Linked DNA regions of Homo sapiens: regions 2 and 3 are each linked to region 1. The links come from fine-mapping of genetic effects on gene expression. A gene starts in region 1. Each other region holds a variant in brackets. All regions are shown on one strand. Distances are between the middles of the regions.

Region 1 (2,761 bases):
TTACGAATCTGTTAATTGAAAATTTTTCAATATGGCAGAGCACAAAATATTTCACACAAATGCAAATAGAGATGTCATGCAGATAGCTGCAAGACGTGCATCATTGCCCTTCTGCATCAAACTCCGAAATTCAGAGGCAGTTCACTCTGCAAGATTTCTTGCTCAGTTCTTAAAAGTTCAGATGCATCACCTTTTAATCAGGGTAATAAGCTATAATTGCTAACATACTGTGTAACGTTTAAACCTGCAATCTGGACAAACAGAAAATTATGCTGTCACAGCCTGGAAACAACTGCAATCCACTGTTAACACACACATCCTCCTTAGAGAGAGCTGTCGTCGGGAGTTACATGCTTTATGGTTTTAATTATTTTTAGCGTAAAGATCTTTTCCCGAGAAGCAGGTATTAAGACGAAAGCAGCCTCCCAAATGACCTTCTCTAACACAGACCTTGAGCGAGCGACTGCGGGGGCAGAGAGCTGTGAATTTCAGCAAGGGATTCGACAGCTCCACCGGGTCCCTCACACTTTGCTTTCAAGAACAAAAAAAGAATGTTACTCTGCACCTGCCGGTGCCCCCACCCCTCTTTAAAACTTCATACCCCGCAAGGTCTGAATAGCCGGAAAGGGTATGCATCGATTCTTCTGTCCCGTGATGCCAAGAGAAAATAAACCCCCACCCAGGAGCGGAGCCTGGAGTCGCGGCAGGGCAGGGGGTTGGAGAGGTGGGTGCTCTCTCCCCTTACTGCGCTGCATTTTCTCCACCACGTGTAATAATCTCATGCCGCTGGCACCCCACGAGAGGCGGGGATCCTTGTCCTCCTGTCTCCCGGACGAGGACCTCAACCCCTTCCCCCGCTCGGGGACCCCGGCCACCCGCAGCCCGGCCGCGCTGCGCCCAGGTGCGGAGCTGCGGCGGTCTCAGGGCCCGGGCAGCACCGCAGAGCTCGGCCCCCGGCTGCGGCCCCCGGCGAGCTACCTTTTATCCAGGCAGGCGATCCACTCGGCAGAGGAGGAAGAATGGGCAGCGTGCGCAGCGACCATGTTGAGCGGCGGCGCGCGGTGTCCCTGGCTGCGGCGACCTCCCGCGCTCGCTCTGCCTGCGCCTCCGCCCCCGCCTCGTCCGCCGCGCGGACCCCGCTCCTCCCGGACGCCTGGCGACCAGCGCGGCTGCGACAGGCCCGCCCTCCCCGCGGGCTCCCGCGGCCTGGGGCGGTGGGGAGAGGGAGGGGACCCGGGGGGCGGGACGCGGGTGCGGGGAGGGCCGAGTCGCCCGCCCGCCCGCCGCTGCACTGCGGCGCCCGTGGGTGGGGATTCCGCCCCGGGGTGGGGACCCCGCGGTCCCGCTGCTGGGGGACACTGGGGGTGGCGACCCCGGTGGCCGGCCACCTGCGACAGGTGTCCGCTGCGTCCCTCGGAGACTGGGGCCCCACCCTCACCCCGGGGCCTCTGAGGCGGGGCGGGAGGGCAGGCGCCAAGGCAGAGTGGGGAGAGGGCTGCCAGTGTCTATATATTTTTCATACAGCAAATGCTACTAAAATGGCTGCTGCCTCTCTGTTTCCTTAGAAACCCATGAGTCTTCCTCAGCAGCTGTCGAAACTTGCCGGCGGTTGCTTGCTCACCTTTGCTGTCTCCCCTTCAGAAAAGGCTGGAGGGGAGGGCGAGGAAGGCTTGGCGTGGGGACGCCCGTCGAGTCTCTCAGTGAGGAATGAGAGGCCAGCTTCTCCTGCGGGGTGAGGAAGGGCTGGGCGCAATGGGGGGCAGTGCGGGCAGGGCTGAGGGGCAGGGAGGGAGGAGGCCGGTGGGCCCGATGTGGTCTGAGGGGGTGACAGGCTGAAGTCACTGGCCTTGAACCCTGGGCCTGCCTGGGCTTCCATCACCTGCATGGTGAAGAAAACACAGTTGAGAATGGGGAGTAGCCGGGCCACAGCAGAACCGAGACCCCGGACGCGCAGGTGAACTTGTATGGCTGGCCCCCTTGCTGTTCTTCCTCTGGCTGGAGTGTTGAATGGGTGGTGATAACGGCCTGTCTCTTGTAGATGTTCACACAAATGTCATGTCTACAAGTTATTCAGTTACACTCTGCCAAGAACCAAATTACACGCCAATGGTTGTTTAGGAATTTGCGGACAAGTTAAATGTTTTGGACTATTACCAAGCACTGTTTTGATATTTATGGCACTACATTTGGGGCCAGACAATGGGGGAAAGGGACATAGCATTGCTTTCTTCTACTGTTCCCTGCCTCCTCCCCCCACCAAACCTCCTATCCAACCCTGCTCAGGGGAGAGTCAGGGGGACTGGAGAGAAGGAAAGAGCAAGTGCTTTCTGGGATGCTTTGATCCTAATAAAACAATTATTACCATGATATAAAAGCCTCCAAATATGTGCCATTTCCCTCTGCTGGATAGCCAGGATCTAGTTTCAGACCTGCCACAGTGTTCCCACAGCAACTCCTCCCTCCCTGCTCAGGGCTTTTCCCCCAGTTAACCTTCATTCTGTTAATTTCTATCATGTTTATGCTAATATTTAAAATAATATACTATAGAAAGATTAACCAAAGGTATTTATGTTGTGGCTTTTTTACTATACAGGTATGAAGGAGGAACTGTATCTCCTATATATATTAAGTTTCATTTATAAAGACATCAGAGAGCACCTGAGAATGTTTCAAGGTCACCAAAAGCTTTCTGAAAATGCCTTTCTGCAAAGAAGGTTTCCAGGTAAGGAGCTAGAGGAGAAAGGAGCTGCACATCACCTGT
Region 2 (2,761 bases), 280 kb before region 1:
AATTCTGAGTACGGTATGTGTCAAAGCTCCCATTAGGCTGGGCTCGCTCCCTAGACTGCTGTCCCAAATATCCTGATGCCACTATGGACCATGCGTGTTCCTCACCGGGTACCTGAGGCTAGGCTTCTTCCCTCTAGTCCCTCTTCTAAGTCTAAGTGATAGTGCCTGTGAAAGACAACCTTTCTGATGGCCTTGTACTGTGAAAAATGAGCAAATTTAATTCTCTCTCAGATCATGCCAATTTAAAAGAATGTCACACTGTGCCCTAAGTTACTCTATAAACTACAATCTTAAAAATATTTCACTACACATGCAACATGAGCATATTTTGAATCACTCAAAGATGGAAACAGCATAGAGAGGAAAGGGAAGCTTTTACTGAGCTGGTAGTAATAGAGTGGTGAACACTTAGCCTCAATTTAGAAAAATAACCCCAAGATAGGACAATTAAGGTGCTAATGTGGTTTTTTTTTTTTTGAGACGGAGTCTGCTAATGTGGTTTTTAAGAAATAAATATATTTTCAAATGAATTAATATGCTTTTCAGAGAAAATACATCAAAATGCTTTACAAGTACTTAGGCAAAGAAACTATTCAAATTGATCCAATTGATTCACTAATTATTAATTAACCGACTACTTTGAGTAAAGCACCATGCTAGGTTCTGGTGATACAATGGGCACAGTCCTATTCATCTGAAATATTACATTGGACAACATGTTGGAAAGGAGGTATTCACATGTGTAAGAGAGAAAGGAGGAGTGGGGGGAGAGAGAGAGAGAGGAAAGATTCTTTCCTACTTGTTATGATAACATGTGTATAGAGCTTTACAATTCATAAAATAAGTCAATATTCTTATGCTATCAAATGATGCTTTCTACAAACCTGAGGAGGAAATATTTACCGGTGGGGAAAAGGAGATTCAGAGAGAAGAGATCTGGCCAAGGTTGTTGAGTGAATAAATGGCAGGGCTTGCAAATTCAGACAGGGCTCTTTCCACTATTCCCACCCCCACTATCCTAACCAGCAGCTATAGCAACTAGACCTTAGTGCTTGGGTTCATGAAATTATTAAGAATAAATGCATCTGGAAAGCAAAAAGCCTAATGGGAAAGAGATTCCGTGTGTGTGTGTGTGTGTGTGTGTGTGTGTGTGTGTGTGCGCGCGCGCGCTGAAGTTCCAAGGTTCCCGCAGCTGATTCAGCATGTTTAGTCACCAGGGCTGAGCACCCCTTGTCTTTGATGAAGAACCCCACAGCCTCTAGGGAGATAGAATTGACCAAATCCGGAGGGACTGGGAAAGGCTTTCTCCCTTTTCTCACGAAAGTTCAGTATTTTTACCCCTGGGAAAATAAAAGGAAGCGCTGACTTATTTCACAAAGTCTCATTTGTCCCCTCATGGATGTTTATTTACTAAAGTGAGGGTGGGGGTGATACTTCTTTTATAGCTGAATCCAGGCATTGCTAAAGGATTCTGCTCCTCCAGAGGCAACACATAGGGTTCCCCTTCTGAAATGTCTGTTGAATCAGGTTCTTAAGAAACACAGAGAGAACTTTGTATACAATTGATTATACCTGAAATGGTTACAGATCAGATGCTGA[T/C]GTTTCTATTCATTCCCATAACAATCTCCCCAGGCTTTTAGAAAGTTTGTAATTTTTAGCTTTTATTTAACTCCTACAAAAAAGGTAGGAAGGGGGAAAAACTATATTCCCTTCAGGTAGCAGCCAAGGAATAAAGAATATCCTACTAGTTCCCTTGTCTCAATATGATGTCAAAAGTGCAATCTAAAAAGAGTAACATTTCAAATACAGCATGTTCATAAATTCAGACACATCAGGAAGGTTGAAGAAGCCGTCTCTGGCTAAAATTGGAATAATGCATGATCAAGAAGTGCTTTTATTGAATAAGGCCATGACTCATGATATGACAGTTGGGTCCAGGAAAGAAGCAATATGGCTGCCTGAACTCATAGGGAAAGAGATGCAGAAAGACAACATGGTTCCTATATCTCATAAAGTTCTAGTTTTTTAAAAGTCTGTAAGGCAATCTAAAATTACTTACTGAATTAGTATTTTAAACACCATTAAGGAAAGGCCATATAATTTAAGTGGCCAAACTTATCACTGACACATTTGAGTTGATTTCAGGTAAGTCATGGAATCACAGGATCTCTGTTTCAAGAGCCCTTTGATTACATTTCCTTCAACTCCATCACCTTAGAGGTAAGAAAACTGAGGCAGAATGAGTTTAAGTGATTTTTCCAAATTTATCAAAGGAATTCTTGGAACTAGAACTCAGTTCTCTTATTTTCCTCCCCAGTACTCTTTTTACCTATGTTGTTGTGTTTTGTCTGATGTTAACATTACTTTCTTTATGCAAACATAGATTATACAGCAGAGTCAGATGACTTCAAAGTTTGTTGGGAAATAGGAAAATCCATCTGAGATGTAGAAATTGATCCCCCAAATCCTGATAACAAAGCACATGCAGAAAATCAAGAGTTAACTATTACAGCCTTCATAATCTGATAGAGAGGCACAGAAATCGTTAATACCTGAACGAGATCCCATCTGCTATAGTTTAATACCTGTCAATTAGGAAAGCAGGGGCTCACTGCGACTGAGCAGACACTGTTAAATCTGATCATTCAAATTCCAACTTGAAGTTTTGCTTACACAGTTGAGTATCTCTTTTCCCAAAGGCTTGGGACCAGAAGTGGTTTTGGATTTCAGATTTTTTTTTTGGATTTTGGAATGTTTGCAT
Region 3 (2,761 bases), 280 kb before region 1:
TGGGAAGGTGACAAGGGGTCAGGGAGGGCAGACATCCTGGGCCTTGTGCAACTGGAGCAGAAATGGAAGGGAGATCTTAAAATCCAACATGCATTTAAAAATCCTCCATCAGTGGAATCATTCACCTTAAAACATGACAGAAATGGCTCACCTGTTCCTGAAGGATTCCGCCAAATGGCTGTCAAATCATGACTGGAGAAATGAACCTCACTGTTGCTTCCTCTAGTCTCTCACTACAATATGTGGTCATTCCTAAAACTCTTGCCAGCATGAACTGTAATTGTTTTAACTTACCGTCTACCTCCTCCCTGGCCTGGGAACAACCTGGGGACGTGAGCTGTGTCTAACTCATTCTTTCCTTCGTAGCCACACTGTGGCCAGTAAATATGTGATGAACGAATAAATGACATTTCAAAAATGCACCATGTAATCAAGGACAGTGAAAGGAACTGTAATCCCGTGGAGGAAAAATATTCCTCATTTCATTTGAGCCAGGCTCCTAGCCTCTCTACTGAGTAAGGAGAAAAACCATCATCAGCTTCAAAGAACTAGCTTCTGACCACTTCCAACTTTGGACTTGTAGAAACCCATGGCCTTGAGCTTGTCCAGCTAGATTTCCTCTTGGGGCCCATATTTTTCAGGGCTCCAAGGCCTAAAACTTTTTTGAATAGAGTTTAAATTGAAAGAACTCCAGGCCAACATCTACACGACAGTCCTCAGTTCCAGTCACCTTTCTGATTTAGAGTGGGTACCTACCAGATAGGGGACATTAGAAACCCAACCCACCTCTACCCATACTGTTTCTGTTATTAGTGGAAGCATACATAAGCACCAGTTCATCCTCTGGGTGAGCCTCACATGACCACGCTAACTCCTTACATAGTTTCTGCTTGGATGGAATGTCCCATTTTGCAGAGCCTAAAATATGAATTAAGACTGTTACCTCCTCCGGAACTCATCTTGACTATGATCAGGCCCTCCCCGGAGCCCAGCTTGTCGGCAACTGCACTGATGACTTCCTTCACCGAAGTGGCCACTGGCACCCGAATGGTTGTGTAGGTGTGGTCCATGCAATAGACCTTAAACAGAACTATCCAAAGGCAGTAACAAGGTAGTAAATCACTCTTAAGAGTTTTCAATAAAACTATAGTTATGAAAAATGTTTAGGCATCCTCTCCAATTTGCATCATTTTGCCATTTTTGTTACTGTATTTATTCATACTCATTTACCCCTATTCCTGCCCCTTCTAAACTGCTTACCTTAGCATTGGTCTAAGAATAGGTGCACATATGGTTGCCAAGTCCAATTAAAAGAACAAGAGATATTGGTGAAAACCCCACAAAGAGGTCATGGGAAAAAATTGAGAGTA[T/C]CTTCAGGCTGATGTTCAGGGTCTGAAGTGCTATACTGTAGGCAATTCACAGATCACTGCTACCCTGTGTGGCAGTGGGGAGACACCATTCACCTCTCTGCACACAGGAGGGCTTCCGCCTGGGCCATGAGCACGTGCTGACACTCCTGCTCACTTGCTTCAGTGGCTTGTGTGCTTTGGGGCCAGGCCATGTAAGCTCGGATGCTATTTAGCTCAGCAGACTTAGATCAGCAGATCTGGATATGGCACCCAGAGGCTCAACTCTGAACACAAAAATCCTGGGAGCAATTCCCATTATTATATTATAATTCCTGGGTTTAGAGGCAGTCCTAAATGACAAGATTTATTTATAGCTTTAAATGAAATTTTTATCATTATTATTGTGACTATTTTTGGTTGTGATTCTTTGGAGAATCTTAAATAACCAAACAAAAGCCAGCATCTTGATCTTCCTGATGTAAAGCCTCCCTGCTCAGGGCTGGGCTCAGGGCCAGAGCATTGTCCCTGGGCAGGATGCTGGTGATCCATTGTCTCCTTGGCACCCACTAGGCGCCAGCTACCTTCCCACCAGCTTTTCCCAGGGGTGGGCAATCCTGACAACCAGGCCCTGAGATCATCTTCATTTCCTCCAAGGAAAGGGGTTAAGCAGGGAGAGGCCAAATCAGGGAAAGGTAGACAGGCATCTCGGCTTCAGGCACAAGAGTTTAAGGACATAAATAATCGGGCCACCAAAGGGCACCTCCAAGCAAACCATCTGGAGGGCAACAGGGCATCTTCAAAAGAAGCTATTCTGTGGGTCCAAGGTGATGCTTACCATTATCCTGACTAAATAATCTATACAACTACGAGTTAGTTGGAAGAGGGTTCTCACCTTCATCAGAGCCGCGGATAGGCTGGCGCTTCTGGGCTCTCTCATCGCCCGTATTGAACTGTTGCAAAAGAACCTTGTGCTGTAAAAACAACCACAGCAAGTGCCATAAGGGACAGTGACCAATGCATGCTAGCATCTCAGAGAAGACACATCTGAGAAGCAAGCAGAGTCAAGAAATGAAGACAATATATTTCACGTCTACAAAAAAGAAATCACTTTTATGTATACTGCAATATAATATTTCTGGGGAATTGTAATTCTACAGGACACAGACAGAGAATGCAAGTTCATGCCACCTACCTTCTTTTGTGGTGCCTTTGCATCTTCTGAGCTACGAGAAGTAGAGAAAGCACATTATTTAATACCATTGCTACTATTAAATTGCCTTATTTGTATATAACTAATCTTATGTTAGAAAATGAAATCACAATCACAGAATCCTTTCAGGAGACAATATGAGCTTCCTCATTTTAATAGTAATAGATCAAAGCAGAAGGGTAGACAGCAAAGATATCAGCTC

Which allele goes with the higher level. Positions count from the first base shown, and alleles are read on the strand shown. Sizes are in standard deviations (SD) of each study's normalised expression. Not every link is listed here.
With allele C in place of T in region 3, the expression in tibial nerve of the gene that starts at base 1,182 in region 1 is higher (large effect, 1.0 SD a copy in GTEx).

The links. PIP is the estimated chance that this variant, and not a neighbour inherited with it, causes the effect.
Region 2: its variant is fine-mapped to the expression of RAPGEF4 in ovary (GTEx, PIP above 0.99).
Region 3: its variant is fine-mapped to the expression of RAPGEF4 in tibial nerve (GTEx, PIP above 0.99). The same link has a PIP of 0.9 or more in esophagus muscle, gastroesophageal junction, lung, sigmoid colon, subcutaneous fat and sun-exposed skin.

The regions. Positions count from the first base shown.
Region 1 is chr2:172,734,266-172,737,026 of GRCh38, reverse strand. RAPGEF4 (Rap guanine nucleotide exchange factor 4) reads right to left here and starts at 1,182. Exons shown (of 31, transcript NM_007023.4): 1 at 979-1,182. The coding sequence starts at 1,043. RAPGEF4-AS1 (RAPGEF4 antisense RNA 1) reads left to right here and starts at 821. Exons shown (of 4, transcript NR_026995.1): 1 at 821-901; 2 at 1,566-1,732; 3 at 2,594-2,722.
Region 2 is chr2:173,009,569-173,012,329 of GRCh38, reverse strand. The region is part of intron 17 of RAPGEF4 (Rap guanine nucleotide exchange factor 4); the gene reads right to left. Among named protein-coding and RNA genes, the nearest start is that of MAP3K20, 65 kb to the left of the region's middle. The variant T/C (reference allele first, on the strand shown) is at 1,600.
Region 3 is chr2:173,016,985-173,019,745 of GRCh38, reverse strand. RAPGEF4 (Rap guanine nucleotide exchange factor 4) reads right to left here. Exons shown (of 31, transcript NM_007023.4): 20 at 2,542-2,572; 21 at 2,242-2,320; 22 at 944-1,090. Among named protein-coding and RNA genes, the nearest start is that of MAP3K20, 57 kb to the left of the region's middle. The variant T/C (reference allele first, on the strand shown) is at 1,371.